2 linked regions of the Homo sapiens genome follow. The protein of the gene in region 1 purifies or fractionates together with the protein of each later gene. This does not show direct contact. Each region holds a gene or a part of one and is shown on either strand. Other genes may lie near its edges.

Evidence for each region.
Region 2: the proteins of ANGEL1 (region 1) and EIF4EBP2 purify together in Homo sapiens (affinity purification with mass spectrometry, with the first as the bait; one large-scale study listed by BioGRID). This does not show direct contact.

The regions. Positions count from the first base shown.
Region 1 is NC_000014.9:76,792,071-76,796,096, forward strand, and holds part of ANGEL1 (protein angel homolog 1), read right to left. Parts: intron 1-4,026.
Region 2 is NC_000010.11:70,402,711-70,406,944, reverse strand, and holds the start of EIF4EBP2 (eukaryotic translation initiation factor 4E-binding protein 2), read right to left. Parts: upstream 2,801-4,234; 5' UTR 2,544-2,800; coding exon 2,399-2,543; intron 1-2,398.

The sequences.
Region 1 (4,026 bases):
CCATCACCACCAACCATTTAGAAATAAAAAATAACTATAAGTGAATGCTATAAATAACTGGATACCAACAAATTGGATAACTTATATAAAATTGAAAAATTCCTAGAAAGACACAAACTATGCACAATAACTCAAGAAAAAACTGAAAATCTGAATAGGCCTATAATAAATAAAGAGATTGAATCTGTAATTTTAAAACATCCCACAAAGAAAACACCAGGCTCAATGGCTTCACTGGTGAATTCCAGCAAACATTTCAAGAGGAATTCATACAAATCCTTCACAAACACTTCCAAAAAAAAGAGGAGACACTTCTCAACTCATTCTATGAGGCATTACTCTGACATCAAAACTAGATAAAATGTCACAACAAAAACTATAGACCAATATCCCTTATGAATACAGATGCAAAATTCCTCAATAAAATATCAGCAAACCAAATCCAGCAAAATATAAAATTATATACTATGACCAAATAAGATTTATCCTAGGAATGTAAGCATGGTTTAACATCTGAAAAATCATATAATGTGATATGTCGCAATAGAATACTTAAGTTTAAAAAAAAGCCACATGATTATCTAAACAGACAGAAGAAAAACATTTGACACACTCCAACACCCTTTCATGAGTTAAAAACACTCAAAAAACTAGGAATAGAAGAAAACTTTCTCAATCTGATAAAGAGAATCTATGAAAAACTCACAGCTAATATCATACTTAATGGTGAAAGACTGAACGCTTTACCCCTAAGATCAGGAACAAGGAAAGGGTGTCTGTTCTCACCTCTTCTATTTGACATTGTACCAAAAGTTTTAGTCAGAGTAATTATGAAAGAAAAAGAAATAAAAGGTATCCAGATTGGAGTAGAAGGAATACTATTTCTATTTGTAAGATGACATGATCTTATATAGAGAAAATCCTAAGAAATCCACTAAGAAACTATTAGAACTAATAAATGAATTCAGCAAGATTGCAGGTACACGATCAATACACAAAAATACTTCTATACACTAGCAATGAACAATCCAAATATGAAATAAAGAAAATTCCATCTACAATAGCATCAAAAATGAAATAATTAGGAAAAATTTAATAAAAAGTGTAGGCACACTAAAAATTACAAAACTTGGAAAGAAACTAAAGATCTAAATAAGGAAAACCAGCCCATGTTCATTGGCCATAAGACAATATTGTTAAAATGGCAATACTTCCCTAGGCAACAGACTGAGTCCTTGTCACAGAAAGGAAAGAAGGAAAGGAAAGGGGAGACGGGAAAGAGGAGAGGAGAAAGAGGAGAGGGGAAAGAGGAGAGGGGAGAGGAGGGGAGAGGGGATAAAAGGAAAGAGGAGAGGGGAGGAGGAGGAGGAGGGGAGGAGAAGGAAGAAGAGGGAGGAAAGGGGAGAGGAGGAGAAAAAGGAGGAGGAAAAAAGGAAAGGAAAGATTTGTAGATGCCTATCAAAATCCCAACTGGTTGGTTTTTTTGGTTTTTTTTTTTTTGTCTTTTTTTGCAGACACGGATATGATGATCCTAAATTTCATACGGGAATGCAAGAGACCCAGAAGAGACAAAAATCATCTTAAAAACAACAAAGTCAGAGGACTTACTCGTCCTTATTTCAAAAGTACAGTAATCTATCTTATCCATGGGGGATACATACCGAGTCCCCCAGCGGATGCCTGAAACAATGGATACTACCAAATCCTAAATATACTGTTTTTTTCCTAAACATACCTATGATAAAGCTGACTTTATAAATTATGTACAGTAAAAGATTAACAATAATAATAAAATAGAAAAATTATAACAATATATTGTAATAAGGTATGTGAATGTGGTCGCTCTCTCCCTCAAAGTATCTTAAGGTTTTTGAACCTCAGTTGACCAGGGGTAACTGAAACCAAAGAAGGCAAAATCACTGAGAAGGCGGACTACTATATACAAAACTATAGTAACCAAGACAGTGTGGTTCTGGCATAAGGACAGATACAGACAGGAAGGGAACAGAACTGAGAGTCCAGAAATCCATACATCTATGGTCAATTGATTTTTGACAAGGGGAGAAGTAAATGGAAAGTGACTCATGGGTGTAAGGTTTCGTTTGTGGGTGATGAAAATGTTCTAAAATTAGATCATGGTGATGGTCACACAACCCGGAATATACTAAAAGCCAATTAATTATACACTTAAAATGGGTGGATTTTATGACATGTGAATTTCATCTCAATAAAGCTGTTCAAAAAAAAGGATATGGGAATGTTACGAACAACTTCACGCCAATATATCTGATAATTTAGATGAAATGAAATACCCCTTTAGGCCAGGCGCAGTGGCTCACGCCTGTAATCCCAGCACTTTGGAAGGCTGGGGCGGACGCATCATGAGGTCAGGAGATCGAGACCATCCTGGCTAATACAGTGAAACCCCGTCTCTACTAAAAATACAAAAAATCAGCCAGGCGTGGTGGTGGGTGCCTGTAATCCCAGCTACTCGGGAGGCTGAGGCAGAAGAATCGCTTGAACATGGGAGGCAGAGGTTGCAGTGAGCCGAGATCATGCCACTGCACTCCAGCGTGGGCAACGGAGCGAGACTCCATCTCAAAAAAAAAAAAAAAAGAAAGGAATGCCCTTTTATATGCCTTATATTCTTCCTGTTAGATTTATTTCTATATTTTTTCTTTTTGTTGCTCTTACACAGTGTATTTTTTTCATTATATCTTTTAATAAACATGTATTTCTATATAGGAACACTACTAAGTTCTGCACATTAATTTTGTACCTATCTACCTTCCAGAATTATCTTAATGCTTAATGCTGCTTAGTTTATTCTCTTGGATTACCAGTTATAAAATAATATCATCAGCAAGTAATAATTTACCCCCTCCTTTCCATTTTTATCCTTCTATTTTGCTATATTTCTATTTTCTACTTCTAATTCTGTTGGCTGGTATCTCCAAACACAGTTAAATTATGATAGTCTTGTCCTTGTCTTGTTCCTAACTTTAACAGGAATGCTATTAGAGTTTTTTTCTTTAATCAAGATGCTGTTTGGAGTTGAAATAAATACATTTCAATGGTGTAGGAAATTATCCATTTTTTTCTTAAGAGGGTTCATTTTAAAAGAATCAAGAATAGATGTTGAATGTTAACAGATGTCTCTTCAACATCTATACAGAGGATGGCACAAGTTTCATGTATTTTAGATTTCACATATATATAAAATTATATTAATAGATATCCCAATATTGAACTATCCCTATACTTCTACTAAACTTCAGTTGGTCTATGGTATATTGGTCTTTCAATATGCTGCTAGATTTTGTTTCCTGATCTTCTATGTAAAATTTTTTGCATCAATATTCACAGGTGGAGAACATTAGAGTCTGCAGTTCTCTCTTTCTGTGTGTTTACTGTCAGGTGTCAGTGTCAATATTATACTTGTTTCATAAAAATAACCTGGCCCCTTTCTCTCTCTGTGCTTTGTAACAATTTAAACAATAATGGAAATATATGTTTTTTAAAGGTTTGAGGACATTCCCTATCAATCTGAGCCTGGTGTTTCTGAGGGACTGTATCTCTGAGAACTTTTCCTATTACTTTTCACCCCATGGTCATTAGTCTATTTAGACAATCTCCATGGGAATCAGTTTTAGTAAATTACATTTATATGCCATCCAAATTTTCCATTTCTTTTGCACTTAGTTGAGCAAAAACAACAAAAAACCCTTGTGATTCTTGATTCCGCTGCATCTGGATGCTTGTTCCTGCTCTTTTCCCACTTACATAGGTTAGCTAATGAGCTTCTTTAATCAACAGCTATTTTTCATCCAAGCAACCAACTCTTAAGAATTTATGAGTTCTTCCATTTTTCTGTTTTTAAAATTATTTCCATTTGAATCTTCTTTCCTTTTGCTTTCTTTCAGTTTCTTTCTTTTTTCTAATTTCTTGAATTGGGTGCTTAACTCACTTTCATCCCTTCATATCTATTAATATAACTCTATGATTCTAAATATTTTATGTAATTCT
Region 2 (4,234 bases), on another chromosome or scaffold:
GCCTAGGCTACAGAGCGAAACTCCGTCTCCAAAAATAAATAAATAAATAAACAAATAAATCCAAAGATTATGATGGGCTCTCCCAATAAATACAAGCTCAACAGTAAAGAAGAGCCAAGATCACAAGTATTTAAATCCAAAACAAGAAACTGTGTGTAGAAACAATGTCGGGGGAAGTTAAGTGATATTTGAGAAAACAGTGATTGAGTGTTGTTAGGAGGAGGGGTAATGAATTAGTATTTCTGGCAGACTCTTTGCAAGCACTTTAAGAACTAATCCAGGCTATGAGACAGGCTTCTATCTTTGAAGCAACGCTTAAAGACTATGCCCTTATTTTTAAAAGTATGGTAGCTTGACTATTTGACATAAGCCAAAAACGTGTCTAGGTGGCTCTTCCCTCAGGGGATTAATATATAGCTGAAAGTTTAGTTCCCTTTCCAAATACATTATAGCTGAGTGCAGTTGTCACTATGACGTGTTCTGAACTTCTGGAAGCACAGGCATTTACTGAGCAATACCACAAAGAATTCTGGAAGAAGTTATAAATCCCTTTCCATCACCTCGGAAAACAGCATCTATTTCTTAAAAGCTATCAGTTCAAGTTCAAGACAACTCTTATATGGAGCAGATTCTGGTCTGCCAAAATTTTTCAGGATTAAAAAGCAAGATCTTGGCCGGGTGCAGTGGCTCACGCCTGTAATCCCAGCACTTTGGGAGGCTGACGGGGCGAATAACTTGAGCCCAGGACGAGCCTGGGCAACATGGAGAAACCCAGACTCTACCAAAATACAAAAAAATTAGCCAGGCGTGGTGGCACGTGCCTGTGGTCCAGCTACTCAGGAGGCTGAGGTGGGAGGATCGCTTGAGCCCAGGAAGTAGAGAGTGCAGTGAGCCGAGGTCGTGCCACTGTACTCCAGCCTGGGCGACAGAGTGAGACCCTGTACCATGCTCAAACACGAGTTGGTCTTGAACTGATCATATCGGGGGGAGATTTCTTCCATGAGTTAAGCCACCTAAGAACTCCACTATTCTGCAAAGTTAACATTTCCTTAAACCCAGCTCTCCATATATATTACTGAACTTCTGCCTGGGTCATTTAAAAAGCCTTTCAAGGCAGCCCGCCCAGCCCCCAGAGCGGCCTGGCTGAATTTCTCTGTAAAGCTCCCTCCTAGATTTTATCCCTTGGTGTTGGCAAGAAGGTCTCCTTACTCCACAGGCCTTGCTATTGTGCAACTGATTTAAGGATGGTCCAGGCCTAACTGCATCGGATTGGTTGTAGTACAGCTCCTGAGCCCTGCCCACAGGAACAAGGCTAGCAATCCTCTAGACCGCAGGAGCTGCGAAGTCCCCACCCTCTAGCAAGAGGCCACCCCAGCACCAAAAGAAGACAAAGTTCTGAAGTTAAAAAGGAGGCCCCGTTCCCTTCAATAAGGCTCCTCAAAATCGCTTTCCAGGCTCCTCCCTCTGGAGGACAGCCCAGTTAGGGCACAGACAACCTTTGAGCTCTCTTCCCGTGACCAAGCTTCACCTCTACCCCAGTATTACTTATTTGTAAACAGTTCCTGGTCATGCTTTGAAAAGCAATGCCAGGGAACCACCCTCTCTCTGGATTGCCTCTCTCTAGCCCCTTCCACAGGATCAAGCAACCACCCCACCCAACTGGGGTGTCCTTGACAAAGGTCCTTCAATCCATTTCCAAAGGCGTCGCTGCCGAAAGACACCCTACCTTAAGGCTGTCAGCACCCTACCACCCCCACCTACTTTCCCTTGGCTATTACTTGAGCTTTATTTTATCACGCTCTCCTCCCGGCCTGGGGACTCCCCTCACCCGTGGGGCCTCGTCCAGCAAAGTAAACAATGCTGTCAAAGCGGGATAACGCTGGGCGAGGCTTCCAGACTCCGCATTCCAGCCTCCTCCCGGTGTTCTAAAAGCAGCAAAAACAAGCCATCGCAGGATGCCAGGGCCGAATTCCTCTCCCAAAGTTCTTTTTTAAAAAGCCCCGGAGCCAGCTCCAAAATCAAGCATTAATTTGCACAATCTACGACAGGCAATGCAGACTGTAATGCAAGGCCAAGTGGAGCCAAATCCGCCCGGGAAGGAGGCAGAGAGGAGAGAGAGAACTGGGTCGAATGCGTAAGCCTGCCACGAAGCGGAAACAAGAGCTCTTTTTCGCGACAGGACAGCCACATTCCCGAGTGGGGCGCGCGCCGACTCGAGCTGCGGGCAAGAGCGAACACGAAGTAAAGGGTCCCGAACGCTCGGGCGGGCCCAAGGGCAGCGTCCCCGGGGCTTCGGTGGAGCTGGGGGCGGGGGCGAAGCGGCCGGGCACCGAGGCGCCGAGGAGTTAGAGGACCGCGGCGGGACACCGGGCGCGGCGGACGGCTGGCCGGCGCTCACCTCCCGGTGTGGTGGAGAAGAGCGTCCCCCCGGGCGTGGTGCAATAGTCATGAGGTAGCTGCGCGGCGTCGCTGATGGCCACGGTGCGGGTGGGGATGGCGCGGCTCTGGCTGGGCTGGTGGCCGCTGCCGGCTGACGAGGACATGGCTGTGGGCGCGGGCTCTCGGCTTTGTCCGGCGGGCAGGCGGCGGCGGCGGGGCCGGGGCTGCTTCGGCTCCTCAGGCGGACGGAAAAGCGCGCTCTGCGCGCTCCTCGCTCGCTTCCTCCCGTTCCCTCGTCCCGCTCCGCTCCCGCCGCCGCCCTCTCAGCCGCCGCCGCCGCCGCCGCTCGATCCTCCGGCCTCAGCCAGCAGCCTCAGGAGCAACAGCAGCGGCAGCAGCGGCGACGACGACGACCGGAAGCGGGCGAAGGCGGGAGCCAGAGGGAGTTGGGGAAGCTGGTCGGCCGGAGGTGACGTCGCCGCGGGGCGGGGCGAGGCAGTGAGGGGCGTGGCTGAAGTTGTTGAAGGGGGCGGGGACGAGGGGCAGGGCTGAGGAAGAGAGTGGCTTAACCCCAGCGAGCGGGAGAAGAGCCAGAGGGAGCGCGAGCTAAGTGTTTGTGAGCCTGGTGAAGGCGGACAAGGAAAACTTTCTTCTTATTGTTTGTCATTGTCGGTTAACACCACTTTACTTGAGCAGACTTGAGTTTCTCATGCATTCCTATGCATTAAAAATGTAATTTTACTTTTAATTGTTCATTATTAATTCAGGCACTACATGCACGATGTACTGTATTTTAAAAATCAAACAGAGCAGAAAGGTTTATGGTGCCACTTTCTCCCAGTTTCCGAACTCCCCTCAACCGCTGTACCAGTTAATTGTGTATCCTTCCAAAGACCATCACTATATACACACATAAAGCAAGATCTAAACATTAGGAAAAGGAAGAAACCAAGAGCCACTCATGGCAACAAGAATGAGTATTATTGTATTAGAGTTAAAATGAGGCACAGGAGAGGGCTTAGACCATGAGGTACCTGAAAAATCTAGATCTGGAACTCTATTCTTTCCTCGAGGGGTTCTCAAACTTTGGGTCTCAGTACCTCTACATTCTTGAAAATTATTGAGGATTTCCAAGAGCTTTTGTTTGTGTGGATTATATGTATTGATAATTATTGTATTAGAAATTAAAACTGAGCCGCTGCTGATCACTAGTGGGATTGTACCTGTGAATAGCCACTGCATTCCGGCCTGGGCAACAGAGTGAGGCCCTGTCTCTAAAAAACAACAACAACAACAACAACAAAAAACAAATTAAAACTGAGAATGTTTTAAATGTTTATTAATTCATAAAATAATAACCTATTACATGTTGACATTATATTTTTTAATTATCTAAAACAAATAGTGAGAACAGTGGCATTATTTTATATTTTTGCAAACGCTTTAATATCTGGCTTAATAGAAAACAGCTGTATTCTCATATCTGTTTCTGTGTTCAAGCTGTTGTAATGTGTTGATTCAACTATATGAAGAAAACCCAGCCTCACACAGGTATGTAGTTAGAAAAGAAGGTTGTCTCAGATCCCCGAGGGGCTCTCCAGATCACACTTTGAGAACCGCTGCACTAGGGCAGCACTACTTCTGCCCACAACATGCCCAAGGTGGGACTGGGAAGACACTCATGGGTAAGGCCAACATAGCTACCATCATTCCCATTTTGCAAATGAGAGAAATAAGGGTAAGAGAGGTTGAGGGGAAAACAGCTATTGCTTCACTGCTCAGAGGGTCAAACAGGTGCTTGGCAAGAACATAGACAAAAGAACTTACAACAGCCCAGGGCAGGCCAGGGCATTAC